2 separate regions of the Homo sapiens genome follow, and region 1 is linked to region 2. Evidence: fine-mapped expression QTL. A gene starts in region 2. The other region holds a variant in brackets. All regions are shown on one strand. Distances are from middle to middle. Region 1 overlaps EMC2 (ER membrane protein complex subunit 2). Region 2 holds the start of EMC2 (ER membrane protein complex subunit 2).

Region 1 (16,347 bases), 36 kb after region 2:
ATTAAATGGCCGAAAGTTTCCTGATTATATGTTAATTTATCCCTCATCTATTTGGAGGACTAGGGACAATGCTCCCATTTTAAGTCTAAAATTCTTAATGGCTTTAGGGTTTGAGTTACTTTCAGAGCTTTACTTTTACTTTTCTTCTGAGTTCTTGAGACTTTTAAAACTTTGCATTTATTGTGGCACATTTTTGTTTTACTTAGTAAACTTATTTTAAAAATATTTGCTTGTGCCTACTATGTGACAGGCATTGTGCTAAAGGCCTTTGCCATGACCTGATTAATTAAGGATATAGATTCTTTTTTTATTTTTTATTTTTTTTACTCTCAGGATATGCTTAAGGATATATATTATTAAAACATCATTTTTTAATTACCCAAAATATTATAAACATTGCTCTGACCCTTATTTATTAGTCTCTTGATTTCTCTAAACTTTCACTTTCATTTCTTCAGAGCCAAATCACTCTCTTACCACCCCGTAATGAGTAGCTCTTGATACTGTAAAGAGACCACATCCATTTTACTTCTGTCTGCATCTTGTGGAATATTATATCAACAATAAGAAATTTTATTCATAATTAATAAGTTTAGCTTGGCCTCAGTTATAGTATGGTTTATTGTTTATCCTTCTGTATTTGAAGCAAACATAAATAGAGAGGACGTAAATTTAATAATTTATACAGTATGCTCCAGTCCCTGACTGTTTACTTCAGCCAGTACTGCTTTCTCCTAGGCCTTTGCTCATGTGTTCTTCCCACTATGCAGTTTCCATAAATAACTTCCTGTTTTGTTTTTTAATGTCTACTTACTCTTTGTTTCAGTACACGTATCATATGTGGGACCGTCTTTGCTTTCTGTCTTTCCAGTTCGTCCACTCTGACACAGCATGTGTCAGAATCTCTTCCTTATTTTCATAACACCCTAGATATCCCTGTCATTGCTCTTACTGCATTAACTTTTTTATTTGATACGTTTTTGTCATGAGAATGAGCTTCTGCAAGGAATTATCATTTCTTTTTTATCTTTATATTTTCATTGTGTAGCACAATATTGGCAAACAGTAGAAGTCTGGTACATATTTGATGAATGCACAATAAATGGCATTGATTTTTATGTTTATCATTTTAAAAACTTTAGAATACAGCTTCTAATTGTTTTGCTTATCATACAATATTTATTTCAGGACTGTATTATTCTTGTGAAAGACTCATAGGTAGATTTTCTCTTAAAATTGTGAAAAAGTTGTCAGAAGACATATTTATATAATGATATTCAAAGGCCATGCCATGGTGAGATTTTTTTTCCCCTAATCTCCACTGTTCCTCCCCCTCTTAGGATACAGATCTTATGAATGAGACAGAGTAAAGGGCTTTAAGTTGGATAAAGATTAAGATTCCCTGCTGGTTAATAATTATCAGAATCTGGATGATTATTTATTTGGATGAAACGATGCATACATTGTGTGCATCAAAAGTAAAGCATATGTGATTGTTAGAGGAATGTTTGAATTCCCCAGTGGGATGTCATGGGGTATGTTTATAAACTCCCACTAAGCAGTAGTTCTACAATGGAATTTCTCTGGCATTGAGATAATAATTTGCACAGTCAAATTACCTTCTTTACAAAACCCCAAGGAATCATAAGGGCCTAATCCTTTATTAATGTCAACCCACAGGCTGCAAGAAAGCGTAAGATTGCCATTCGAAAAGCCCAGGGGAAAAATGTGGAGGCCATTCGGGAGCTGAATGAGTATCTGGAACAGTGAGTATTTTACAAGAGGATTGTGTTTTGTTATTCTGATAAATCTTTTTTAATTAAAATGGAATTTGCATTTGATTTTCCTGTTTGTTTTCATGCTGTTCATTTACAGAATATCTACACACTTACTTTTTTTTCTTTTCCTCTCACCAGATTTGTTGGAGACCAAGAAGCCTGGCATGAACTTGCAGAACTTTACATCAATGAACATGAGTAAGTTATTAAACACACAACATTTTGTTGAGTGCAGTTTTCATCACTGTAAGTTCAGAAAGCACTGTGGTTTCCAAAGGATTGGTGAGAGGGTGTGAATCATGTCATTTGAAATGAGAAACAGAACAAATCAACAATTAAATGAAAAAGAACAAATCAGTAATTCACTGGTCATAATAAGTGAATAGCTTTAACTAGGTCATTTGTGTTTTGCCAAATTGTTTATGTTTAGGAAATAAGTTTTTCTTTCAAATATAGATGGCATTCTTTGGAAATAAAAAGGCCTGCATTTGCTAAGCTAAGTTTATTTTTGGTAAATCAAAATTGTGAATTTTTAGAGTTCAGATTGTTCTTATATACAAAGAGTATTATACTCCCTGCTGTTTAAAAATTCTGTCAATTGTATGCATGTATTAGCCTTAGTACTAAGAGAATCAACTCTTCCAAAGTAGAAGCATTCTGTTGCCTGGGTAAAAAACTGAGAATAATCAAGAATGTTGAATGCTCTAGGATCTTGCTTATTGGATGTTTAATGTTTTTGTTAGCTTTTTTATTGCTGTAGTGACAGGAGGAAATCCCAGTGTGAGAGGATTAGTCCAGAGTCTTAGTGCAAGTTTTCTAATATTACAGCATTAATGCTAACCTCCATCTAGAGGCGTGTTTTTTATTTTTTTTCTTAGTTCTTCTAAATCTGAAGTATATGACATTGTTTCTTTTCCTTCTTTTTGACAGAATAGAATCAGATTCTCATGCGCATTTTCTTGTGCATGAATATTTAACCTTGTTCTCATACTACAAACAACTGATGAGAAACAGAATGAAGACATTTGTCTATTGTCTGTGGTCTATATATATAATGTGATCTAGAGGATTGAGGTAGTCTATTTGCATAAGTCTAAGGAAAGTGGGAGCTAAAATAAAAGTAATAGCTGTAATTTAATGAATGTATACTATATTCTAGGAACTGTTTTTCAAGTTCTCTGCTATACTCTGAAACAGATATTCTGGTTTTGATTAGGAAATTATTTCCTGAATCACATTCAGTATAGATGATATGCTTGTATGTACACATATGTAAACATACTCATGATTTCTTACACATGTGAAACAGTATATAATACTTATATTTAAATACATGAAATTGAATTTTTAGAGTATAGTAAAAATAATTAGCATTAATTTTATTTTGTTTCTAAAACAGGTGACAGTCATTTAACATTTTTTGTACTTTCTAAAGATTTTCTGACTAAAAGCATTTTAAAACATTTCAAATCAACAAGGAAATTTTTTTTTTCAAGTTAAAGGAATACCTAATGCAGAAAATTTGAGAAACACAGTAAAGCATAAAGACCAAGACAAAAATTACATGTAATTCCAGCATCCTAAGTTAACTATAGTTTGTTTGGTTTTTGTCCTTCCTTATCTTTTAAAATAAAAGCCCAAAATAAAATTATCTTCCGTAGTTTATACTTTCCCTTAGTTATATTTTGTTCAAAAATTTCTTGTCACTGTAACAATCTACAGTGTGTTTTGAATGGCTTTATATTATTTCATCTTACTAATTTACCCTAGTATTTTTAACGAGTTTCCTAGGGAGATATAAAGGTTGTTTTATATTTTTATATATAATGCTGTAGTGATCATTTTTATTTTGTTTCCTTGGGTTAAATTCTTTGAAGTAAAATTGCTTGATTAAATAAGATGTACATTTTCTGTGGTTTTGATAAATAGTTCCTGATTGTTCCCTAGAATGGTAACATCAATTTACTTGCACACCAGCATTTACTAGAGTCCCTCTTTAACAACACTGGATACTATGATTCTTTTTTAATCTTTACAAGTTTGATAGGTGAAATTGGTTCTACCTTTTTAGTTCATTTTTACGAGCTCTTTTTATAAAGGAGAGCAACCATTTGTCAAAAGTATATCCTTGTTATATGCTTTTTAAATACTGACTTCTTAAAATTATAGAAACTTTACATTTTTAGAAAATCAGATTCATCAATTTTTAACATTATCATGTCTGCTGTCCTTTAATAGCTTAAAAATATATCACCTTTTCCCCCTACTTCATTTGCAATTTTATTTTTTTGCATGTATTTCTAATATTTATTTCATCATCAAATTTAGGTTATACCTTATTTTTAACCTACCATTAAATTTACTTATTTTTTTCACCATGTGGTACCACCTTCAGTTTTGCTTTGTTTGGAATCTAAAGAGTTTATTGAAACAGAGGTGAATGTACACTTAAGAGAAATGAACTGAGAAATCTCAAAAAATGAAGATTTACAAAGATGTAGGAGCACCTAAAAATATTTTTTTAGAGAAAATGATAATTATGGTCAGCCTACCCTTTTATCTAGTATCACAAAACTCTTTTTGGTCTTAAAGCTAGTTAGTTACAAAATGACCATTTTTTTTTTCTAATTGAACACTTAGAAGGAATATTTATGTTTAGGTGACTGGAAATGCATATCTACAGGTTTTTTTGAAACTGTGAAAATTACAATCAGTTCACTTGATTCATTTGACATGTTTGAGCAAGTCATTATAGGAGGCAGGAATTTTTTGATGGAATGTTAAATTATCGTAGGATATCAGTTTTAGCACCAGTCTTGGGGACACAGTGGCAAAAACGTAGCAGTTTCGAAAATGTCAGATATATTTAACATTCGATATTCCTTTCTGCATATGAACAGTTGTAAGCTTTTTTAAGTATAATAGGTCGCAGGCAGCTTTGGTAGCCTATATCTAGAACTATTTTTTTTCTTTAAGAGACAGAGTCTACAACATTTCCCAGGCTAGACTTGAGCTCCTGGGCTAAAGTACTCTTCCCACCTCAGCCTTTTGTGTAGCTGGCACTACAGGTGTGTCACTGTGCCCAGCTCTGGAATTTTTAAACTCCAAATAAATATCTATAGTATAATTTTCATATAGCCCTATTTAATGTTTCTATAGAGAGAAAAAGGGATATAGAATTGTGCCATGTAACCTTTTTATATTTTTAAGTTACTTTTATAAGTTTGTTTCTGATTTATAGTTTGTTTTTAGTTATTCCAGGGATATATGTTACATCCATTGACCATATTGAGACACTTGTTCTAAAGTTTTAAAACTACAGTTAATTTTTTTGTGTCAGCACTACCAATATGTATTATAGGTTAAGTATCCATAACCTGAAAATCTGAAATCCACAATACTCCAAAATCTGAAACTTTGAGTGCCAACATGATGCTCAAAGGAAATGCTCATTGGAGCATTTTGGATTTGGGATTTTTGCGTTAGGGATGTTCAACCAGTAAGAATGCAGATATTTTAAAATCTGAAAACTTCTGAAATCTGAAACATTTCTGGTCCCAAGCATTTTGGTTAAGGGATACCCAACCTTTGTAAGCAAAAATACATTCACATTATGAAAGACAAATTTTTTTACTTCATTTGTTATTGAAACTAGATACTATACAGCAAGGAACAGTTAGTATTATACATTAATTATGATTGTGATTATAGTTCCTTTTCATAAGTCCAGCCTTTTAAAATTCCATATCAACGGAATTACCACAATTCTTTAAGGAAAAATTGTGATGTTGGTAAAGTAACACACAGTACCAAATACTGTAACCTTTAGTTATATATACTTTTGTAAGGAAGAGAAGAAAACTTTATTTAGTTCTAGTACTGACTCTAATATTGTAATAACAATTGTTATTCTGTTTTAAGTAGATTCAAATTATTTTTACTTCTCTATTCTTAGTCTTGTTGAGTCACTGTGTGTAATGAATTAACTTCTCTATGCACCTAGAATAGTACTGGCTATGTATTATCCCTGACAAGACTGAGGAAATAGTCACTTTCTGCGTGGCCTAACAATGGCCTAGAAAAGCTGGACTAGACCATCTGTTGAGCTCCTTCTAGCTCTAATTTTATTTAATTCTATATTTTATCCACAAAATTAGTTTGATACTGTACTTTATAAAATTGGGGGAAGGAGTCCTTTTCTCATATGTGATGCTAATTGATTTTTGAGAAAATATCTTGGTATTCATTTTACCCTAAGAGCTGCTACTACCTGCCCATTTTATCTTGCTTTATGCACCAGTGTCACAGTTGTGCTCAACCCATTTAAATGTCTAAGAACTTTTATTCTTAGTCTCAATATGAATTTTTGGCATCATACTATTAATAATTAAAGGAACACATTTAGAAGAGAACTGTCTTTTGATAAAGTGTTTAAGGTAGAGACAAATTTTCCCTTTTCTTTTCGAGTGATAAATATATATTAGGTAGGTAGTCATAACACATTTGTTTTAGACATTTATTCAATCATTTGTTCAGTCTTATTAAATACCTATCATGTGTCAAGAACCAATGCTAGGTTTTGAATTTAAAAATGGAAAGGGCTAAATAGCTGCATGATCTTGGATGAGAGTACACACACACACACACACACACATACATATATATATGTGGTCCTTCATAAATCTAAAATGCTGTAATTATTAGGTAATCTGCAGGGTGTATTTTTTTTCCTCAGTCCCTTTGGGTGTGACTGCTGTACACATTTTCATGTTACCATTGACATCTTCAGTTTTTCAATGTGATGTGTAATGCATATAAGCAGCATATGTAGTGGTTGAAGAGTACAGGCTGTCTGGAGTGGCACAGCCTGGGATTCAGTTTACATCTCTGTGCCTCAGTATTCTCAGCTCTAGCATGTTGATAATAATTTCCTTCTTCCTAGGGTTTTGGTAGGATTAAATGAGTTAATACATGTAACACATTTAGAACAATGCATGACACGTAATAAGCATTTAGTAAAAGCTATTATTAGTATACATGTGTGAAACAGGAAAATAATTTTTAAAAGTATATCAGGCAGTAGTGTAAAGGTAGATCCCTTTGTATACTGGTAAATGCCAAAAATAACTTTAGGTAGCCTCTTTTTGTTGGGTAGTGTCATCACTTCCTCACTGGGAAGAAATCTTGTAACACCTGTGTTCATTAGAATTTCCTGTAGATAGTGAGGATAGTCACATGGCATTAAACGTTTAAAATATATTTAGTGAATTACAGTCACATGCTTTAAAATGTTTTTCCAGAGCTCTTTCTGGCAGTTCTCTTTCCTTAGGTTTTCAGCAAGATTTTTGTTTATTCTACCACAAGATTAAATAATAGTACAGTATATATCAAAACCAACTTGATCTGTTTTTCATGGGCTTAGAAATTTATAACTTCATTATAATTTGGTATTTGACAGTGAACTTAAGTAATGAGAGAAATCTTTGTAATAGAATATGTTGGTAAATATATGCCTGTGAAGAATTTTTAGTGAGTAGAGAATATTTAATAAAATGTTTATTTTCTCCTTACACATTAGCTGTTTGAATATTTTTTTAAATGATCAGTCAACTTCCAGAAGTTGTTTTATATACAGCTTGATCCAAGGTCTTGAAGCCCTTCTTATTAGTAGTGATGGGATGTAGTAGGAGTGACCCAGTTTTTGAAATGTAGTATCTATTGATTGTTTGCAGGCTGCTTTAAGATTTAAGCCTGTGTTTATTAATTTCATGATAAAATTTAATGTCATTGATATTTATGAATTTCAGATGACAAATACTTTATTAATAAAGCTATGTAAATTATATTGGGAATAAATTGTTTAACATGACTAAAGTTGTTTTTAAATTATTTCAAGGTTTAACTAAGATAAAAATTTGTGACTTTAAAAATTAATTTCTCCTCTTGATGTGTTTTTAGCTATGCAAAAGCAGCCTTTTGTTTAGAGGAACTAATGATGACTAATCCACACAACCACTTATACTGTCAGCAGTATGCTGAAGTAAGTGTTTTCAGAACAATGGCATATAATTTTATTTTGGTTACTATTCGGTGTTATTATGGAACTAAGAATATTTCCTTGATGTTAAGCAAGTATATAAATATTTAAAACATCTGATGAGCATTGAATTGTGGGAATAAAAGTTTAAAATTTTTAACATTGCAGTGGTAATACTGACTTAAGACATACTTAAAACAGTGAAATTCCTTGTATTTTTATATTTGTATACTATTTTCTTTCCTAATTATAAGTTATATCACATTTGTCACCACTTAATGGCTTGTGAGACATTTATAGTGATTATGATTGTTAAATCCATATTCTGGGAAATTTGTATTAAAGCCAATTGGGACATAAGTATTTATTTAATTTGCATATTATTAAGAATAGCAGTACAACTGAATGCTATAAGGCTAGAAGGACTTCATTATTAAAGAATGTCCATGCAGATTATAAAAGGACAATTCAATATTTAAGTCCACATTTATAATGCCAGTAATAGAAAATACAATGTGAGGTGAAGCATTTGCGAGGCAGCTGAAATAGAAATTATTCTGGCTTTTTATTGCGGCAGCATTTTTGTTTTAGAAACTACTCAGTCATCTCAATGTTCATAGAATAGAATAGCTTTTTTGGGGAAGGTTATGTTTGAAATTTTAGATTAGCTTTAAAAACCTTTAGGTGAATTCTTTTAACATCTTGTATTTGTTTACAGAGAATATCTGTTTCGATTACTGAATGCCTATGGTATGATGAAACCATGCTATATTTCAAAGTAGTAAAATAAACAGTTTTCAGCACTTTGCAATTTTTAACAGGTTAAGTATACCCAAGGTGGACTTGAAAACCTCGAACTTTCAAGAAAGTATTTTGCACAGGCATTGAAACTGAACAACAGAAATATGAGAGCTTTGTTTGGACTTTATATGGTGAGTTGAGGTGCATGTTTAATGTTATTTTTAAAAATCTGTCACTTAAAATCCATTTAACTATCCCCTTCAATCACTCCTCTCCTGTTTTTTGTATTTTATTGATAAGCATGTTTTTTTCTGTAATTAATTCTGAGCAATAGCTTGTGAGCCAGTTTTCTTTTTGAATGTTAACACAGCCTAGCTGTTTGACATTCTTTTTTTGTAAACTATCTTTTATATCAGAATTGAAATCTGCCCTTATAAAATTAAATAGTGACAGATAGGAAGAAAACATGATTTCTTGTTTTGATATTCTTGGGTTTATGCCCAACATTATTGTATTTCTTCCCTAAATTATAGTTGTATGAGGTATTTTTAAACAGTGCCAATAAAATACATTAGAAATCAAATCCCTAATACATCAAATTAAAACATTTTTTATGGTGTAGAAAAACAGTTTGGAAATTGTGGGAAGTATGTAATGACCTATTGTTTAGGTATGCCAAATGCTGAGCTTAGAAAAGTCAATTAATAAGAGCTGTGGGAAATAGAGGAATAATCTGCTGACCTTTAAAACATATATATAAAGTGAGCACCTCCCTACAATAAGAAACGCTGGGAGAAATAAACTTTAATATTTTATTTATCCTGTTCCTTTGACTTCTTGATGAGTGTCTTCTTGTTGCAGCTCAGTGAAAAGGAACTGAGTGAAGAAATGGAAATAGGAAGAAACAAAAATGAAACAATTTTTAAAAAGGAATGGCAAAATATGGTTAGAAGGTGGTTCAAATGAATTTCAAGAAAATTTTCCTGGATTTTAGCAAAGCCAATTGCAATGGCTTGAAAATACGCTATAGTAGAAGTATCTCTGTATCAAATAAATACTAATTTTAAAAACTAATATACAACAAATTAATAATAGCTTATACATGGCACTTCATGTGCTGGGCATTGTTCTGAGCTCTGTTTTTTATTTTAAATCAATAAATCCGCACATCAACTGTTTGAGTAGGTGCTCTCAATACTATCCTCAGGTGGTGAAACTGAGACACAGATTTAATTAATTTGCCCAAAGATGGGCACAGAGCTCCTAAATGATCGAGTTGGGTTTCCAGCCCAGGAAGTTAACTCCAGAGTTTTTCTCGTAACCACTGCATCTGCTAAAATTCATAAGAAGAAGGTAACATTAAAGTCATAGAGGTATAAAAATCAGATTTGGGGATATAGATTCTTCACTGGCAGAGAGGGAGACATAGGTGAAAGAGCCTATAGCACAGGCTGGCATAAAACAAAGGCTTAACCTTTTTTTGAATCACATGGTCATATTCTTTTAAGAGTAAAATATATTTAAGAATAGGAATCAAGTTATATCTTACTCTTCACAGTAATATATACATTTAATAATTAGCATATGATTTTGGGGTTTTATGGATTCTTTCACAGATCCCAGATTAAGAACCGCTCATTTAAATACATTTTTAAAAAGGAGAGGGTGGATCAAATTGCAGGGACTAATTAGTTCTCTGAAACACAGTTTGAAAACTCATGGTATAGTGAAAAGAGAAATGGATTAGAGATAAGGATCTTCTTTATTTCGAAGACCCATTATTTTGCTTTGGTCAAGTTAAATCTCTCTTATTGGACTTAAATTTCTTTAACCTATTAATGTAGGATGTCAGGCTAAATTATTTTTGAGTTTCCTTTTTCTATAAATATTCAATAATTCTATGATTCTGACATAGCAAGTTATGTAATTCAGTAATAAGAAATAACACCAGTAATATCCTACAGTGGTAAAGTGCTTTTGGTTTATAAAGTGTTCTTCTAGAGCTTCTTTATTTAAATGATATGGAATTTTACCTTTAAGAGCTGTTACAGGTACATAATTAAATAATTTTAGGTATTATTTAAAATATCTTTTCCCTTTCCACTATTTTGGATTTATACTATATTTTAAAATATATTTTCATTTTTAAGCACTAATATTCAACTTTATGTTTATATTAAAAATTATTTTAATACAGTTTTTAAAAATTCTTTATTATCCCATTGCAACCATGTCCCTTATGTTTTTGATTATCTTGACTAGCAAAAAAGGAATTTTGCTTTTGATGTTTTTATTTGTTTTTAGTCGGCAAGTCATATTGCTTCTAATCCAAAAGCAAGTGCAAAAACGAAAAAGGACAACATGAAATATGCTAGTTGGGCAGCTAGTCAAATAAACAGAGCTTATCAGGTTAGTATTTATTGATCATTTTGCTATGTAGGTCAGTTAATGTATTTCTTAGTTTTGTTACTACAAACTACAAAGTCGTATGTCTAGCATTGGACTTATATATGCCTTTGGGGCTTTATCAAATGTGTTGTGTTTTGAATTAATTTGTAGTTTTAAGATTACCTTTTTTTCCCCTCAAGAGGAATCTGTTAGTATTATTATTTCATAATTAGCCTTACCATATGGAAATCTCAGTGGTTCTGCATTTGGCAAACGCAAAGTAATTCTAAAAACTCAGAAAGGATAAATAAATATCACGTCACATTTCAGAAGCAGATTGGGTATGTGAGTGTATTATTAATCATAGGTATCTCAAGAAATAGAAAAGAAGGAAGAAAGCCTTAAACTAATCAAACTGCATAACAAAGTTTGTGCAGTCTGCTTACACTTCAGATCCTTTACTGAAACTTCTCCATTTGTATCTTA[G/A]TTTTCTAAAGTTCGTCCTTAGCAGATTTTTTAGGAAATTATTTTTCGTTAGAAATTTGCTCATGGGAAAACACATCTTTTTATGTCTTTAGCCTTATTTGTCTATAGCCTTTATATTTAAAGGACAATTTGGCTTTTTATATACCCGTTAATACTTTACCTAAGTATCTTAAGCATACTGTTCAGTTTTGTTTTGTTTTTAATATAGACGAGATCTTGCTATATTGCCCAGGCTGGCCATGAACTCCTGGCTTCATGTGATCCTCTTACCTCAGCCTCCTAAGTAGCTGGGACTTCAGGTGCAGGCATCACCATGCCCAGCTATTTCATTCTGTTTCAGAATAAAATGTTGCCGTCAGGAAATATGATGCCGTCTTGACTTACTTTTTATCATAAGTGACTTGTCTGGTTACGCAAAGGAATTTTTTCTTTATCTTTAAAATCCAGTAGTCTTACTATGATTTGTTTTATTGATTATTCTTGGGTCAGTTTTCCCAAATACACAGTACACCCATTTAGTACATCAGTTTAGCCCTTTTATTTGAGAAAAGTTGCTTTTAGAATTACAAATATTTTTTTCTCTGCTTAGTTTTCTTTTTCAGGGTTTCAGTAATACGTGTATTAGACTTCATTTTTCTATGTCCTTTATTCATTTTCTTTCAAATTATTTTGTCATTTTCTGTATTTTATAAAAATATGAATTTGATTCATATTTTTCTTTCCTCCATGTTTAAATGAGGTAGTTTTCCTGGACTATTAGGAGACAATGTTTATGGAATGGCAGGGAGTTGGAGATAGGTTAGGGTAGCTTTCCCAGCTTGGCTATTCTATGGCCGTCTCCTTTTTTGCTAAAGAGAATTCAAATATGACCTCTTTGTATAGCCGGTCTTTCTTAGAACTGAGTATGAATGGCCAGTCTGTCTTAGAACTCAGTGTGACTCAGAAAGATTTTCTGGCTTCAGCCCTCTGTTCTGTTTCTAGAGCCCTCAAAGTCTTGAATTCTGAGGTGTTGCTCTCACTTTAAATGTTACATATTGTTGTTACAGTTTGTGTTTCTTCCTTTTTGTTTTGTTTTCTTCTGGGATTGCTGCCTCTGGGCATCACTCCTTTCCTCACCCCTCCTTGTCTGAACCATCTCTCCTTCTTGCCCTGGTGTTTCTGCCCTGTTCAGTTTGGTTTCAGTTTTTAATTGTTTTTCTTCAGGGTGTGAGGTTTTGTCCTTCTGGAAGAGGATGTTTGCTAGATATTTTAGAAATTTTAAGATATTAGACGGTTAGACTTGTCTAATCTCACATTTATGAGCAGTTTTTTACATTTATCTTTGTTTTGGAGCTTATGAAGACTTCTAGGCCATTGGCAGCTGCATCATCTCAGGTTTTCTTGTTTAGTGGATTAAGAATTCATAATTTGTTTGGTTTTTGGTTTCTTGTAGAGTAGTAGGTTGTCCTCTATTACTTTCTATTCCTCCTACCACACAGTTGTTAATCTTTTGTTGGTCATGCTGCTCTTGATGACATAGTCACATTCTAGGGTTTGGAAAATTGACTGTTACCTAGTTTTTTTGAAAATGTCACCTGTGGGCGTGGGTTCTGTTATGTTGGTTTTGGTGCTGGCTTTTTGTTGTTCGTTTTTGCCCTTCTGGTTGGAGAAAATTGAGAAGATTTTACAAATGTAGTGCCTCCATAATCACATCATTGAAAGTCACCTTTGTGTATTTTTATTGTCTGTTATAGAGCATGTTAGTTTTGTTGGCATATTCTAAGTCAGAGTATTTATAAATATTAGTGAGACTGTGCTTCTTCAAATGCAGTTTGGGATAGCTCAGATCTGTAATGGAGTTCCACACAGAGTAGGCTTGGGGGTGTGTGGGTGTGTGTGATTTATGTAATATTAAAAAAAAAGATTTGTGTAATATAAAAGTAACGTTATGCATACTACATAATTGTTTTTAAGATATGAGAAACAGCTACTCAGAGTGCTTTTTTGACATAACTATTTTAAAATCAATTTTTACTAAATTAATAACATAGAAATAAGAATTATAACAGAAAAAAGGATGCAAGTCATAAATGTGCCTTTCAGTGACTAATATAAGGTAAATGTATCCAGGCTAATAAATATAAACATTGCAGCATCCCAAAGCTCTCTTGGTAAGTCCTCTTAATTTCTCCTTTTGTATTCCTTAAGAGTACTCACTTATAACCCTATAGTTTATGGAATCAGCCAGTATGTATTCATTTTTGTCTTGCATATTTCTATCATTATTCAGTTTATGGGATTTATCCTTGTTTGTGTCTGTAGTTCATTCATTTTCTTCTGTAGTTCATTGTATGAATGTTATAATTTAGTTATTGCTATGCATTTGGAATATTTTCTGTTTGGGCTATTTTGAATAAACTATACTGAATATTGCTGTACAGGTCTTTTGGTGGAATATATGTGCAGTTCTGTATACCTTTGAGTGAAAATATGGGTCATAGAATGTATGTATATTTAACTTTAGTAGTTAAAGGCAATTTTCCAAATTAGTTTACTCCCACCAGCGGTAAGAGTTCTAATAGCCCCACATCTTCACCAACACATGGTTCTGTCAGTCTTTGTAATTACAGCCATTCTGGTACATGTGTAGAGTGGTACTTCATGGTTTTATTTTGCATGTCCCTGATGATCAGTTGCCATTTGGATGTCCTCTTTCGTGAAATGTTTTTCTCATTGGTTTGCATGACTTATTTCTTTAGTTTTTTGCTTATGAGCCCTTTTTTAGTTATATGTATAAGCAAATATGTATAACTTCTTACTTTTTTGCTCATATGATCTTGATGAATAGAAGTTCTGAAATGAAATGTGTTCGAATGCCTCAGTCATTTGTTTGTGTTTTTTGTGTTCTGTTTAAGAAATCTTTTGCTACTCACGGTCATAAAGAATTCTGTGTGTCTTCAGAATTTCTATTCTTTTACTTTTCGTATTTAATCCACAACCCATTTGGAATTGATTTATTTTTAATTTTTAATTTTTATTTTTTTAAGACAGAATCTGGTTGGTTCTGTTGCCCAGGCTGGAGTGCAGTGGCATGATCATGGCTCACTACACCCTCAACCACCCAGGTTGAGTTATCCTCCTGCCTCAGCCTCCCAACTAGCTGGTACTGTAGACGCATGTCACCGTGCTCGGCTAACTTTTAAATTTTTTGTAGAGATGAGGTCCAGCTGTATTGCACAGGCTGGTCTCAAACTCCTGGCCTCAAGTAATCCTCCTGTCTCAGCCTCCCAATGGAGTGCTAGGATTATAGGTGTGAGCCACCGCATCTGGCCTGGAATTGATTTTTATGTATGATGTGAAATAGGGGGTCCATTGCTCCCCATATGGATATCCAGTGTTTCTGTCCATCTTTGTGTTCCATCATGAGTCCCGTCCATGGAAGCTAGTTCAATGTAGTAAAGAGAAGATTACAGATTTGAACCCATGTTGTCTGGGTTCAAATTTTGACTCTGATATAATTATTAGCTATGCAAACTTGGATAAATTACCTAACATCTCTTGCTGTATCTTTTCTTCTGCAAGATGGCCATAATGAAATATTCTGAGAATTAAAGAAATTAAAACATAAGTTATTATGTTTTTCCTTTTCCCTGTCTCTTCAGTGTGACAAGACCCCCTTGAGGTATATTGAGATATAATTTACATGTAATCAAGTGCATATATTTTAAGTATACAGTCTGAGTTTTGACAAATGTGTACATCCCCTTACCAGCCCCCCACTCAAAATAGCATTTCCATCACCCAAGAAACTTTCCTTCTGCCATTTTGCAGTCAACCTCATCCCCCACTGGGAGACAGACAAGCACTGATCTGATTTTTATCACCAAACATTAGTTTTGCTTGTGCTATAACTTTGTATAAATGAGTTCATAGGTTATGTGCTCTTCTGTGTCTGGCTTCTTTCACTCAGCATGTTTTTGAGATTCATTCATTTACAGTCCATTTCATTTTTCCTATTACTTTGTCTACCCATGTATTTTCCACAAATTATGTAAAGGTAAATTTAAGCCCAAGCAAGGTATCTCAGTTATTACAATGCATGAATCACTGACCTCTGAATTTGATAAGCAAGTTTTTATTGTTTGGTTGTTTTTGTGTTTTTTTCTGGTGAGTTTTCTTATAGATCTTACAGAGAATTATGAAAGATTTACTTAAGCAAAATCTAACTGTATGAAAACAAAAATACAGTATTTGTGAATAATGTAAAAGAGTATATAACTTTCAGAGAATGACATTCTTGATAACTAGGTAAATCTTTGGGATCTCAGTGAGAATTTCTTAATCATATCTAGGAATATAAACCGGTATAGAGTATATAATATTTCGTATGGGATTTTTCTACGTATTTATAAATTAGGGAAAATTAGGTTTCAAGAACTGCTTTTCTTTCTTTGTTTCCACTTAATGATGAAACAGAATATGGCTACTATTTGCTCGTCAATTAGGTAATTGGTTTAGCATGTTCAGTAGAAGCAGACACATTTGATTAATGCACATGAAAAACTTTAATGTGAACCTACTCACAATGATTTTCCAGATAAATCCTTCTTTGTTGCACTGGTAAATCTGTGCTAGTGATTTATATGATATTTATGATTGCAGCAGTGATTCTGTTACTATCCTTTTGGGAAACAGAAAATTAAATCATGATTTGAGGGAAAAAATGATTCTGACTTAATCAGTTAAATTGCCATACAATTCTGGAATAGACAGAATAATTGCATGTCAGATTAAATTTGAAGTGATAGATTTGTATTTCCAACTTTCTTTTATTTGTTCTGACACAAGTAAATTTATTTGGTTTATTCTAAATTGCACTGGTTGTGAGTAATGTTGACACCATCTCAGTTGACTCTTTAAAATTAGCTAATTTTAAAA
Region 2 (15,279 bases):
AAGTCTGTAGTCTTGACTGGGGCTGGAGGACCAATCCTAAAATGTCTCATTCCCATGATTGGCAAATAAATGCTGACTGTTGTAGGAAGCCTCAGTCCTCGCCACATGGACCTCTCTGTGGGGCTGCTTGAGTGTCCTCATAACCCAGAATGAGTGATCCAAGAGAGGGCAAAGCAGAAGCCACATGTCTTTTATGACCTAGCCTCAGAAAGTTATACTCCATCATTTCTGAAAAATATTCTATTGATAACACAGGCCGTTCCTATTCAGTGTAGGAGAGATTACATAGGGGGTACTAACCAGAAGGTGCAAATTACTGGGAACCATCTTGAAGGCTTCTACGACAGTTGGCGACCTTGCCTACAGCTTGTTAAATATTTTGAATATCACTTTCACACATGAGTCAGAGTAGCCTGGAAAGAGGTGGAGGCAGCAGGATGAGGCAAACCTCAAGCTGAGATTAAATTTTTGTCTTCCCCAAAGAATGGTACCTCAAATAAAAATTGAGCTTTACAGACAACCAAAAGAATGTGAGAAAATATTTACAAAGCATACATCTGACAAAGGTCTAATATTCAGAATCTATAAGGAACTTAAACAGTTGAACAAGCAAAAAACAACCCCATTAAAAAGTGGGCAAAGGAGATGAACAGACACTCCTCAAAAGAAGACATACAAGCAGCCAACAAACATGAAAAAATGTTCATCATTACCAATCATTAGAGAAATGCAAATCAAAACCAAAGAGATACCATCTTTCACCAGTCAGAATGGCTTTTGTTAAAAAGTAAAAACAAAAAACAAAAAAACAGTTGTTGACAAGGCTGTGGAGAAAAGGGAACACTTATACACCATTACTGGGAATGTAAATTAATTCAGCCACTATGGAGAGCAGTTTGGAGATCCCACTACTGGGTATATACTCAAAGGAAAATAAACCATTTTACCAAAAACATACCTGCACCCCTATGTTCATTGCAACACCATTCGCAATAGCAAAGACATGGAATCAACACAGGTACCCAACAACGGTGGACTGGATAAAGAAAATGTGGTACATATATACCATGGAATAGTACACAGCCATAAAAATGGATAAAAGCATGTCCTTTGCAGTGACATGGATGAAGCTGGAAACCTCATCCTAAACAAACTAATGCAGAAACAGAAAACCAAATTCTGTACGTTCTCATTAGCAGAAACTAAACATTGGGTATATGTGGTAATAAAAATGGGAGCAGACACTGGGGAATACAAAAGGGTACAGGGAGGGAGGGAGGTAAGTGTTGAAACAAACAAACAAACAAACAAACAAACAAAAACTACCTATTGGGCCGGGTGCAGTGGTTCACATCTATAATCCCAGCACTTTGGGAAGCTGAGGCAGGCGGATTTCTTGAGTCCAGGAGTTTGAGACCAGCCTGGGCAACACAGTGAAAACCTGTCTCTACAAAAAATACAAAAAATTAGCTGGCATGGTGGCATCCACCTGTAGTAGCAGCTACTGGTGGGGTGGGGGGTATAAGGCAGGTAGGTCGCTTGAGCCCAACTCTGGGAGTTCGAGGCTGCAGTGAGTCTTGATCATGCCACTGCACTCTAGCCTGTGTGACAGAGTGAGAACCTGTCTTAAAAAAAAATTAAAAAACAAAACAAAACAAAAAAACCCCCAAAAACCTCAAACTACCTGTTGGGTACTATGCTTACTACGTCGTGGCTGGATTCATTTGTACTTCAAACCTATGTAACAAACCTGCACGTGCACCCCCGATTCTAAAACAGAAGTTGAAAACAAACTGTTTTATAAAAGTGCAAATTTTGTTCTTGCACACCTGAGTTTGTGTACTGAGATTCATAACTACTGTGTCCCATGTAACTGCTCCCTGAAAAGAACTGCCAAAGTTTTCTTCTGTTGCTTTAATTCTTTAAAAGAGACAATCAGCAGCCCTCTTCTGTTGCTAAAAATTTTAAAAAGAGACAGTCCTTCTCTTTGAAACTCAACTTTACTAGTCATGTGAAGTCTAGGAAGCACTCTGCCTCCCCCCATTAGGTACTGATTTCATTATATCATTCCTTCTGGCAGTCCAGAGTACAGACTACTATTAATTACCTTCCCAGAAGAGCATCTGTGCAGCACAGCAGATGCTAACTAAGGCTGCCTTGGCATCCAAGAGAACAGCAAGATGACATTGAGGGGCTGCATATTTACGCAGCATTCATATTTCACACCTGTAATCAATTATCTACTGTTGGAAAATACTGATAAAATTTAGTCTTGCTTAAGTTTATTAACAAGCAACCATCAATGATAGTATGGCAGCTAGCCACTGAATTATCTAGGGGCATTCTGATTGCAGTGTCTTTGGAATTTTCTAGTATTTCAGGGAGAGCTTGAGTTCTAGAATTTTAGAAATGCTGCCATTTTTCAGAGTTATACTGTTATTCTTGGAAAGACATTTCTAAAATTCTAAATTACTTGGATATATTTGGCATCTGGGTAAAAAAGGAGGAAGAAATATGAAGTTCTAGGTAATTTACCAATGGTAGTAGTAGTAGTCTCCACCCATAAGAAGAATGAATGATTTTTGATTTATATTTCATAAAAACAAGCCTCTGTGGATTATATGTATTCTACCAAGTCTTTTCTTCAACACAAGGCAACCATTGCTGGCCTATTTATTATATACTAGAAAAAGACATTCTGTGCAGTCAAAATGGGTAATTTCCATATGTCAAATCACCAGTGACTTCTGAAGAACACAGACCCCTACCTCTCATCAACAATTTTTTACCTAATAGTGTTGAGGTAGTGCACCCCTAGAACGGAAAGATAATAATAATGGCTACTGTGGCAGCCATGAAGTATACTGTTTGAATCTCCCTTCAAAAAAGAACTTGCTGAAGTAGTGCAGGAAGTTGACAGCCTCCAGCTATTAAAGCCTTCAGGATTAATCTCAGCTTTTGAGCGGAGGCCATGCCCTTCTGGGTATTCCCCAGCCAATAAATGAGCATGTCACTACACAAGGCCTGGCAATTTCTGCCCATTGTGGGTCTCTTCTAATGGGCAATCTTTGCTCAGAAACTTCTCATTGAGTTGGCTGATACTTTGTCAGGTCTAAATCATGGTCTATGGCTCTTCCTGCCCAATCTTTCTTCCTACCCACTTGTCTTACACAGGCATTATATATGTGCCATGGTGTAAAAGTTCTCTATAACCAATTTTGCTTCCTCTTTCTATTTCATATAGAGCGCTCCCAATAAATTTCTTGCATTTCTAACTCCATCTCAAAGTCTGCTTCCCAATGGACCAAAACGACACAGCTACTGTTTACTAAGAACCTACAATGCAACAGAATATATCACAAGGTATTTGGGAATATTATTTAACCTCTCCTAACTGTTCCCTCATCTGTAAAGTGGGGTTGTTTAAGAATTAAACAAAATAATCTAGAAAGAGCAGTTTGTACAGTTCCTGGTATACATTAAGTACTCAATAACTGATATGTAAATTGAAAATATTATTATGCCAGACTCCGAGAAATTTTGTGTTTGTTACTTGTAATCCTTTTTATAATTGGCAAGTATTATGCTTGTTTTACACAGGAAACTAGCATTCAGTGAAGTCAGTTTGCTCAAGTTACTTAATGTACATTGCTAGAATGTGTAACCTGAGATTAAAACCCATTAATCTCCATAGATGAGAGGAATGTACATGTATGTAGGCAAAGAATCCATTGCTGTCACCTAGAATGTAAAGGTGCTCCACACCCTCTCTGGCAGGGTATGTACAATGTAATTAACACAAACTATTTTGGAGATTCTTTCATAAATTTAAGTCTATTCTTCTAATTTCATCAAATATATGACCTTAGAATCCATCAACGGGTGCTTAGGACTAAGCACTTGTCTAAAACTTAGAAGAGGAATATAGAATGGCACTGCTACCCCATGATGAGTACCAGTCAGTTATTTTTGTAGAATGGCTCTCAAATTGGGTTTGTCTGATGTTTTCTAATAACTCGATTGAGGTTCTACTTAAAATAATCTTGCATATTGCTAGAAAAATTTTATCAACTGAAATCACCCCCCATCATACCTCTATCCCCACTGGACACATGTTCAAATTCATTATTTAAAGATCCAAAATAAATGTGTAATAGAAACATAATGAACAGAAGGAAATTAAAATATTCCATTGCTGAAATAATTTCTAGAGAGGTGGCAGCAATTTAAGTGGCGGCTTTTGAAGCATGTCTATATTGTTCCTTACTTCAAAGTTTTGAGATAAACAACTTTAATAAAATTTAAAAAAATTATGTTACATAAAATTTTGAAAAATAGAGATCATGCTATTTTCTCAGGAGTGAGATGGTGATGCATAGGTCTAATAGAATGGATTTGGGGGTGGGCAGTTTTGTTAGACATTCTGCTGGGAAACTAGTCTTTTTTCCAAATAAAACCATGGTGCTGACCAAATAGGCCCTCTTAGGTACAAAAGAGAGTGTGATTTATGATCTCAAAGAGAAAATGACCACATTATGCTCAATGTGGCTGTTGGCCTTTAAGCCAATTTTAGCCGAGTAGTCAGCATGACCACAGAAAAAGATGACCAGTAAAGAAAATGACATTCTGGTCTGGTGACCGGAGTAAGATAGCTGAGAACTACATGTCTGAACAAATGACTTAGCCACTTGTAACTAGAGTAATGCTACCAAACTACCAAAGAGAGGGACTATTCAAAAATAAAAATTACATCAATAATAGACTAACATGCATAACGTGACATTCAGTATATCTTTGCATGAGTTTCCCATAATTTATTTATTGTAAATAAACACCTTTTTGAACATTTTTTTCAAGTAAAGGATTCAGTTATAGTCCTACTGTAGAAAGTAGAGTCTAGATGGTCTTCAGGGACTATCAGGTCACATTAAGAGTATTTAGGGACTCCTGGATATTTGGTAACCAAAAGAGATGTTTATGAAAATACATTTTTGCACAAGGAGTTACATTTACACAGATGTATGTGTCTATCAGAACAGAATATGCACTTCGGGGAAATTAAATACATATCACTTGAAAAAGTAGACTCTTAAGTATGGTTATAAATCTCAAAAAGAAACAGCTCTAATTTATAGCCCATGTGGGGTAATTCTGGGTGTACTCTTTCTGGATGTACTTTCCTTTTCAGTGCTACAGCCACGGCACAGAGGGGTAATTATCAGTTTGCGAAATATACTGTGAAAGGACCAAAGCAATCTCACTGGAAATGTTTCCCAGAGACTCCCCTTTCCTTTCTAAAATAATATAACTGGGTATGAAATGATGGCTGGCACATTTAAAAACATATATATTACAAATGACAACAAACTTTAAAAAAAATAGACATGCCTAAATGCTACAGTTGTGCCAGCAAAGGGGGGACTGGGTACTGATTTTGGGGGAAGCATATTAATTATACAGTCTTTTAAAAATGTAATAAAAACAATGTTCAGTAGATTCGTAAAACAATTCCATATTAATCTGGTTTTTGGTAAATAAAATTCTAAGAAAAATTTCATTCTGAACAAGATGCGTCACAGTGAAGGTCTGGTGACATGGAATGAAGGTTATTTTCTGGTGGCACGGAATGAATAATATTTCCACTTAAATAAAAAGGGATTATGGTTATGATCCACTAATTAGAAACAATGACATAATTTAAAAGCTTTGGTAAATTTTATAGGAGAGTTGTAGTGAGACCAACTTACTCTGATGGGCAACTGTCATAGTAAATAGGAGTTACAAGCTGTGTTACATAACATGGGACACTAATTCACTATGACTAAGACCAGGACAAAGCAGACAGAAGATTCTAAGTAAATGGTTTGATGAAGATGCCGAATATTGCAAAATCAACTAGAATAGTATTATGTTCCATCCTGTGAAACAATGTACATTGTATAAATGCCATAAAGTTTATTAAATTTAAGAGGTTGCTTTAGTCCTTCACAATGTCTGAAGATATTAATTGAATTAAGTGAACCATAAAAAAAAGTACTCTAAAGTTCTCTGTGGACTAATTTGGCTTATATCCTGTGAAATAATGTACATTGTATAAATGCCATAAAATTTATTAAATTTAAGAGGTTGCTTTAGTCCTTCACAATGTCTGAAGATAATAATTGATTTAAGTAAACCATAAAAAAGATGTACTCTAAAGTGCTCTGTGGACTAATTTGGCTTATATCCTACCTCAAAGAAAATGTGGGCTTATTCGAAGTTTTTCCTGTATCAATCTAGTTCATTCCGATTTATTGTCATTCCAACTCTTCAAACATAATCTTCCAGGAAAAAAACCAAATCACAATTTAGCTTCACATAAAAAAAATTATAGACATTTTCATTGTGCTGTTGATATCATTAAGTGAGATAATGCTTCCCGTGGTGTCTGACACATCTTATTCATAATGTGGGTACTAGTATAATCTAATATTTGGCTGCCTGGACATTTCCTTGGTATTTGTCACCAATATTGGGCAATGTTCAATCAGAAAAACTGGACTAAATATTTTAAACACATGTGAATGAAAATTTTCCCAATGAGTGAGAGAGGGAGAGGCAAAACTTTGAAGACGTCTTGTAAAGGAGGAGTTACAGAAGGTAAAATTGATGTTTATGTTTTCAGTGTTACAGTTTTATTTATAGAAGGTTTTTTTATTTAGTTATAATTACATGTTATACAATGTTAAAGAATATAGAATTCTTGTCACTGACATACCAGTTTTTTCCTAAGTGTGCCTGAGGAAGGCAAGTTTTATTAGACATGCAAAATGTTATAATCTATAAGCAATCATTTTCCCCACTTCAGAGTACTGTTGGTGACAAAATTTCTCCTAAATATATTTTTCTCATTAATATTTTATCTTTCATCTACGATCTAAACAACGGATCTCCATATGAATCACCTATCTTTGTTACCTGCTAGTGGCAGAAACTTGGGCAAATCATTTCACTTTAGGGCCTCAGGTTAGGAAATACGATATCCATTGGTGTTTTTTAAACTATGAGTCATGACCTCATTTCTGTGTCATACCAGTAGTTTTAGAAAATAAAATGTAGCTGACAGAATTTGAATAGAAAATGTAGGGGACAAGACACATGACAAAGCTAGTTTTTAAATTTTGTCTCAGTTTTAAATACATGTACACATACTATGTGACAATGCAAAACATATTCCTTTAGTATGAGTTGCAGGAAAAAGAGGTTTGAAAAATATTATTCTCAAGATTCATCAGCCCATTCTAACTCGAAAATGAAATTACTCTATTTTCCAGCTTAGAAATTCTGAAAATGATGACTTTTAACTCAGTGTCATACGGCTTATTGCTTGACAGACAATAGTAGCTAGCTATGGGATATTTAGTTGAAGTGATTAGAAAATATGTATTCCCTCAATTAGCTGTAACCTTTAAAATCCATTGCAAGGCTTTAAAAATACCTCCTTGGGCTTTCCCAGAGGTTTTAGACCCCTCAAACCAACCAATGAAATGTTAAGTGTCAATAATTTCATGAAAATATTAAGTGTCTCTTGTATGCAACATATTGTAGTAAGGGCTGAGAGAGAAAAAAATGAATTGGTATGGTCCCTGAATTCACTGAATTTATAATTTTTAGGAAAGTATCGGCTATAAAAAGAAAACATCCTATGCTTAACTAGAGTTCATATGTGTACTATTAAGAAATGTTATTCTTAATAATCATTAATATAAGCTGTCATTTTTAATCTGACTCATTCATTCAATAAACATTTTTACTGTCTCCAGGTATTTTTCTAGGCTGGATGTTCCAAGGTTAAAATAACAAAGTTGGTACTCTGAAGCAGCTTAAAGTGGTGTAAAATACAGAAAGTAAGCAAGTAAACAAACAAAAAATCAAATAGTGATAAGTGTCATTATGATGGATAGGCATTACCTAAGGGCTACTTTTTATTGGATGGTCAAGAGAGGTCTATGAGTAGATACACTTAAAACTGAGATATGAATGACAAAAGGAAGATGGTTTCTAGGAAAAGGAAACAGCTGGGCAAATGCCAGATACAAGGCAGATAGGATCTTGGTCTGTTTGAGGAATAGGAAGTAGATGAGAATGGCTGGCGGCTAGTGAGGAGAAATAGAATAGTAGGAGATGAGGTAGGAGAGGTAGACAAATGTCACCTGGTTGAGTAAAGCCTTGTAAACCATGGTAAAGTGTTTGAAGTACATTTTTATTGCCATGGGGAGCCATTTGAGGCCTATTGCCAAGGGACTTCTGCAGTCTGATTTTTTTTTTAAGACCAGTAGGGTTGTTGTATAAAAAAACAGATTTTACACAGCAAGAATGAAACAAAGGTGGCTAGGAAACTATCACAATCATTCAGAAGAGACGTAGTTGTGGCTTAGATTAAGGTAATAGCAATAGATATGAAAAGTAGATGAACTTTGGGAAGTGCAATATAGAATTTGCTGATAGACTAGATATGGGAGGTGGTGCCAAAAAAAGGAATCAAAGGTACTTCCTGTAATTTTAACTTGTGCAATTAGGTAAATGGTTTCCTCACCTATGACAGGGAAAAACAAGGTGGGAATGCGGAAGGTGACAGCAGGAATCCGCAGTTCTGTGTGGGATATGTTAACTTTGAGATGCGTATCAGCTAGCTATCTGAGTACGTCAAGCAACCAGACTGGGTTTTGGGAAGGTTTATCAGTTTGGGACTGATCAGCATATAAACAGTATTTCTAGACATAGGATGGTACCTCCATGAGAGTGCCACGCAGGGGCTTTAGCTGCAGCATCTGTTTTTATCTTGATTAACAACACAAGGTAGCTATTTTCTTTTTACACACATATTATTAGATTTTTATATATGAGCCTTTTTGATGTTTAGAGAGAAATAAGCTGAAAGTCACCCAGCTACTGAAAGGTAGAGCCTGGATTCAGATCTGGGAGTTCTTGTTCTTCCTATTGCACCAGGTTGCTTTACTGGAGCATTAAAATATGTGAATTTCTGAGTATTTTTTAACTTTTTGAATGAAAGATTTTTAAAAAGTCTGTTTAGAAAGAATGCCAGCTCATTCAGAATTGAATCCAAGTATATACATTCACTAGTCTTCTCTGTTGTTAAGTGACTTCTCTGGGGTCTATGGTTTGATGGTTTTTTTCCTTTTTTTAAACAAACAAACAAAAAAACCTCTGCGGTTGACTGGAGCCGACAGGTGAGGAATGGAGAGATGTTGGTCAAATAGTACAAACTTTTGGTTGTAAGATGAATATGTTCTGGAGATCGAATGTACAGCATGGTGACTACAGTTATAATTCTGTATTGTATACTTTGAAGTTTGCTGAGAGATTTTTAAGTGTTCTCAACACACACACACACACACACACACAGGAAATATGTACGGTGATAGATGTGTTAATTAGCTTGCTTGTGGTAATCATTTCACAGTGTATATTTACATCTAATCATTACTTTGTATACCTTAAATATACACAATTTTTGTCCATTACACCTCAATAAAGCTGAGAAAAAAAACCCTCCACTCTTTTGACTTGTGGGATAGTATTATTTCTACTTCTCAAATCAACTGCCCCTTCTTTACTGACCAATAACTTTCGGCTGCATTGCAGTGATTTTTAGTTTTTTCTCAGCTTACATATTTCCTCTACAATCTCATGTCCCCATTGCTTCAAATACTAAATATACGCTTATCATCCTCAAATTTTTTACTTCCTGTCCAGACATTTCTCCTTAAGTCTAGGAGATGACGTCCAAAGTTTCCTAAAAGCAATTAGTCTGGTGGGAAAGGAGGCTCCCCCATCCACCCAGGAGTAATGAGGAGCGAAGTTCAGGAACTGTGAAGGTCTCATTCGTACATTCATTCCTTATAAGTACTTACATACTCGCGACAGTTTGAAACCTAGTGTGGCATGCAGACATGGATGAAGCAATGACAGGCACGACGAGCGTTAATGAAGGGTATAAGCTAGCGCGAGGGCATTCAAGGGAACTTCAGAGCGCAAAGGAAGAATCCCACTTAGTCTCTCAAAACTTTGGAGTTTATCCGTTTAGTCGATTAAAAAGTGAACGGAAAGCAAATCCCATTACGGAAGGAGGAAAGTTGGGGACAAATAAGGGATTCGTGCAGAAGGCTGCACTGCGGCCGGCCATGAAGAGAATAAGGGTACTTAAGGGAGTGTGAAGAGAATGAACAAGCCTAGGTAGAAAAAACTGAAAAGCCAGGATTGACGGACACTAAAAACCCAGCATTTGTTAAAAATCCACGTCAACACACACACACACCTCACCCCGAGCCAGCACCGTAGCCCCGCCAGCAGCCAGGGTATCCTGAGATTGCGGGAGCGCCACGCACCGCCCACCTAGCTCCGTCCACCGTCCAGCTCGCTCCGCCCAGCTCGCTCCGCCCCCTTCCCCGAAAGCCCCTCCGCAGAGCCGCGTGCACGTGCGTGGCGGATACCGCCCCCTCTGCTCTCTTGGCCAATGAGAAAAAGCTACGTAACTCTCCACCGCCCGGTGGCGGGTCACGTGACTGCGTCTCCCCGCCCTCTCACCCCGCTGCCTCTAGGTTCTGGGAAGATGGCGAAGGTCTCAGAGCTTTACGATGTCACTTGGGAAGGTAACTTCGGGTGGGGGCGGGTGCGGAAAGACTAAAAGCGCTGGGAAGCCGTTCGGGAGTACCCGCTGCTTTCGGGGAGCTGGGTTCTCTGGTGTCTTTTTGGTACCAGAGCCCTCACTGTACGGGCCAAGCTGAGGTGGAGGCTGAGGCTGACCCTTCCCTTGGCCCGGACGCGTACTCTGCAGCGTTTCCCACGGTGTCTGCTCCTCGGTTGACCTGCCCTCCTCCGCGCCAGTCCAGCGTCCCGGGGCCGCTTTTATTTATGAGGCGGGCGGGAGGGACTTGGGGCTGGGGTTGTCGCACGCTAACTGGTTGCTGGGCGGTGCGGAAGAGGCGGAATAGGTGGTTACTGAAGCTTCTTTGGAGCCAAGAAACACAGGGCCTGTAAGGCCCTTTACTAAGTGGTGTGTAAGGATTACAGCTCTGTGCAGAAAAGCTGTGTAAAAGATGCGTGAACAAATGTGATTCTCATATGCCACTCTACATTTAGTTTTCTTCTTAAACCCGGGTTTCCAGTTTCTTTTCCTTTTAGTCTAGTCTCTGTCCCACTCCTTCTCAAAACACATTTACACACACAACACAACTTCTTTCTTACTCCCTACTAGTAGTTTCTTTTCTGAAGGGAAAAATAACTAATTAACTCTGGGCTACGTAAGTGCTTACGTGTGATGGTCACTTTTCCCTATCCTTAGTTGATCTAGAGTGGGATATGTTCTTTAAATCTGGGAACAGCCAAACCTTGGATCAATTCTGTGTGCTTAAGAAACTTGAGTTTCATTAAGGCGTGGAATTTGTGTAATTGGAATTCATATTCCCAGCATTTAACATAATACAGGAGACTTCAGTAGCTAATTTGCTTAACGAATGCCTTCTTGGGATGTTTTAATAATGACCTGAAAACATGTGGACCGAAAGTTGTATTTTCTGTTTTATCGTGAATAAATATATCAGTTATTATAAAGTTGTAAATCCGTTACAAATAAAGCAAAATTTCTTTGTACTTGAACTGAATTAAATGATTTATTGACTTTATGGCCTCTAGCACGTTGTGAATCTCAGTATTTATACCTGAATTGAGGGATTCCATTATATTAAACAACAGTGTTGATTTCTTACTGCAAAATCTTGGCTCTGTCAACACACAGTCCCCACTTCCAAGGAAGTCACAATCTAATGGAGAAAACAAACCTGTAAACACACAGTTTTAAAAGGCTTGTGTCAGGGTATCTTCCGTAAGCTGAGTCGTAGATAAATGGATGTTATTTTTAATGCTTTTTAAAAAATGTTTTAAATATTACATAATTTTTAGAAAATGCTATTATGAAGGTATGTTCATTATAGGTTTCCTAGATGATAGTAGCATATATAAAATCCTGAGGGACGAGTAGCTGTATACTACCAACAGACAAGGTGATTTAACTGAGTAATTGGACCTTACCCTGTGGTCATTCTAAAGAGGATTGATGTAATTAATTTGGAATAATAAATAATAACTACTACACAAATTTGTAGGAACAAAGAAAACATTTTAAAGTGCTTTGTAAACTGTTAAGTACTATATAAAAGGATGTGTTACTATTAGCTAGTGCTAATATGATTATGTCCTTCCTCTGTATGATCTGGCGGTTGCCCATGTCTCCAGCTTTATCTTGAGCCCTTCTCCCTCTCACTTTGTGAGCTGCCTATGCTGGCCTTTGTTGAATACCCTAAATTGCCATGCTGCTTCTTAAAGCTGGCACATGCTAGTCCTTCCACTGGGAGTGTTCTTCCCTCCTTGCCTCACTCTTGCCCCCATTAAACTTTATCATTTATCAATTCCCCACAAAGCTCACCTACTACAAAAAAGCCTTACTTGACCACTCTACTACCCCCTTCCCTTTCCTCATCCCCCACCAAAATTGAAAAAAAAAACCCAAACAATAAAATGAAGCAACAAAACACACCTGCAATCCTTCGATTATGTATTCTATTCTAATACTATTGAAGCACTTACCCAATTGTGTTTTGTTTTAAAATTTTGTCTCTCCTAAGATGAAAGGGACCAGGCCTGTTTCTTCACTGTCACTTCCCTAGAGCCTGACACATGGGGGCGGAGCTCAGTAATTATTTGATGACTAAATGAATTGTTAATGAGATTAATAATAAACACTAACACATTGTCAGAAAAGATTATAAGCCATTTTTCTAGCGTTGAAATAATTTCTTTAGTATCTTAGATACAGGTTTTAGTATCATTCTTCTCTTAGCTTGAAAATGACCTTTTTAGAGAAGCCTTCTCTGACCACCCTTTCCAAAAGCTCCTCCTTTCTCCCAATCTCCTGACTTTATCATATGGTCTTTTAGTTTTATTTGTATAATTTCACTATCTGAAGTTATGTGGATTTTCATCTTTTTACCCTATTATACTCTAAGCATTATGAGTATATAGGAACTTTATCTTTTTCTTTCTTTCTTTATCCTCAGTGCCCAGATCAGGCCTGGCACATAGGCATTTAGGAAATATTAGTTGAGTGATGAAGAACTCCAATATTTACTCCAAGAAGTAAATATTAGTGGAATAATGAAGTATAGTTCCAGTCATACACTATACTGCCTCAAAGAAGGTAGGAATCATTGGGTATCTTAAGAATTTACATTGTAATGAAGTAAATCTTTAGAAATATCTGGTAGTAATTTACAGATTGAATTTGGGTTGAGAGATCAGTTTGGAAGCTATCCTAGCAATTTTAGCATGGGGTGATGAAAGCCTGGGCATGGATAATAGCAGTGGAAATAGAGTAGAAGATGTAAATCTTCGAAATACTTCGAAATACTTCAAAACAATCCACAGGACTTAGATATACAAAACTCCCACAGTGGGAGTCAGAAACAGCACTAAAAAATGGAATGTCAGGTAGTATTAACAGAAGGTGGAATTAACAGAAATGTGAACATTGGGAAGGGAGGCCATATTTTTAGGAAATGAAGATGACTTGATTTTCGGATGCTGTGATTTTGAGGTAATGAGCTATCAAAGGTGAAAACATGTTTTCTTCAAGATGGTTTTATTTTTACAAATAATTTTTTTAGATAAATGTATTTAAGGCATTTCTAAAAGTAGTATGTGGTTAATAGTGCTACAAATGTATTTATTACAGCAGCACTCAAGAGTGTGGCAGGGTCAGCTATGTAAGGTGTATAGCTTAAGGTGTTTATAGGTAAAATGTTGCTTGTTTTGTAAGTTATATTTTCATACACAGTGTTTCTTGTTTTGTGTTCAGCTATTATATTTTAATATGTGACTGTGTGTCAGACTGCCGTTCTTAGAAGTTATGCTTTAAAAAAAGTTCTCTTTCCTATGAGTGTTTTTTCACAATAAGAAACACCTTTTACAAATTAACTCATACTCAATTAAGTATACCTATACATGAATCTTTGAGTGTATGTATAAACTGAAACCAAAGTTGCATTTACAAAGGATTCTAATGAGTATTGCTTCCATTCTGTTCATTTTGTTTCATTCTCCCCCACTGCCCCCCCACCCCCAACAGATGCTGGAAGAAATCCACTGAACCGATTTTATACCCTATTAATGGATTGTAATACACAGTTTGAAAAATACGTCTTCTGGAGCTCTGTGTGCATTAAAATAAATTAACCCTTTCCTTTTTCAAATCAGGTTGCCTTTTCTTTTAGAATAGCTGTTCCCAACAGCCTGCAGCCAATCTGACTAGATACTTTTATGGGACCATGAATAATTTAAAATTTATTATCCTGTAATTATCAACCTTTTAAAAGAATATGCTGGTTTATGTAAATGAATCTGTAAGTGGTATTTCCGAATATATAAAAAAATGAAGTGGAAAAGATACAGGATTGGAGGAAGTAGTTTTGGACTAAAGAAATCATAATTAAGTAGCAGGCATATTTTTCCATCTTTCAGAGGCCACCTCACTGCAGTGACATCTCATGCAAGTTGTCATGGAAGGAATAAACAGAACAATCATAGCGACTCTCTTAACCTTTGACCTTTAGCTCATCTCACAGGATTGCACAGTAGTTAATAAAATGTACAAGCAAGCAGTGAGAAGCTTACTTACATAGTATGTAATAAAATGACCTTGGCTTTGAGGAGCGAGCTTTTTGCAGGAAGGTGAAAGGGTAAAATGAAAGTTTTAAGCCACCTTTGAGGAAAGAGTGAGGGAAGAGCCTTTATTTCTTGTGAGAGGCTGAAACAGTTACCAGATTTTTTTAAAAAATAAAAGTAACTAGAATTTTTGTAGGGCTTCACATTTTATAAAATGCTTTACACGAATTTTCTAGTGTTTGGTGTCCTAAACTCAAGGGCCAAGCAGATGAAAATACATGTAGTTGGGTGAAAGACAATAGTGGTGCCTGTGAAGAACTGGTAAGTGTATACCCTTATCTAAGGGTAATCAAAATCAACTTAAAAACAAAAATATCCAAACTATTGTACGAACCAAGCAACTTTATATATATTTTATGTAATCTTAACTGCTCATCCCTGAGCTAAAGGTAATATTATCTCTATTCATTGGTATTGGAAACTAAGTACAGATTCGGTAAGTTATGTAAGGTCATGTAAAAGATGGAGTTTAGATTCAAACCAAGTGTATCAAGTCCATGT

The links. PIP is the estimated chance that this variant, and not a neighbour inherited with it, causes the effect.
Region 1: its variant is fine-mapped to the expression of EMC2 in whole blood (INTERVAL, PIP 0.98).

What each region holds. Positions count from the first base shown.
Region 1 is chr8:108,468,146-108,484,492 of GRCh38, forward strand. EMC2 (ER membrane protein complex subunit 2) reads left to right here. Exons shown (of 11, transcript NM_014673.5): 6 at 1,681-1,766; 7 at 1,917-1,976; 8 at 7,737-7,818; 9 at 8,637-8,747; 10 at 10,861-10,965. Among named protein-coding and RNA genes, the nearest start is that of EMC2, 33 kb to the left of the region's middle. The variant G/A (reference allele first, on the strand shown) is at 11,431.
Region 2 is chr8:108,433,047-108,448,325 of GRCh38, forward strand. It overlaps EMC2 (ER membrane protein complex subunit 2), which reads left to right and starts at 10,578. Exons shown (of 11, transcript NM_014673.5): 1 at 10,578-10,652. The coding sequence starts at 10,613. It overlaps LOC105375704 (a long non-coding RNA gene), which reads right to left and starts at 10,426. Exons shown (of 3, transcript XR_928530.4): 1 at 10,324-10,426. RefSeq lists a silencer at 10,412-10,531.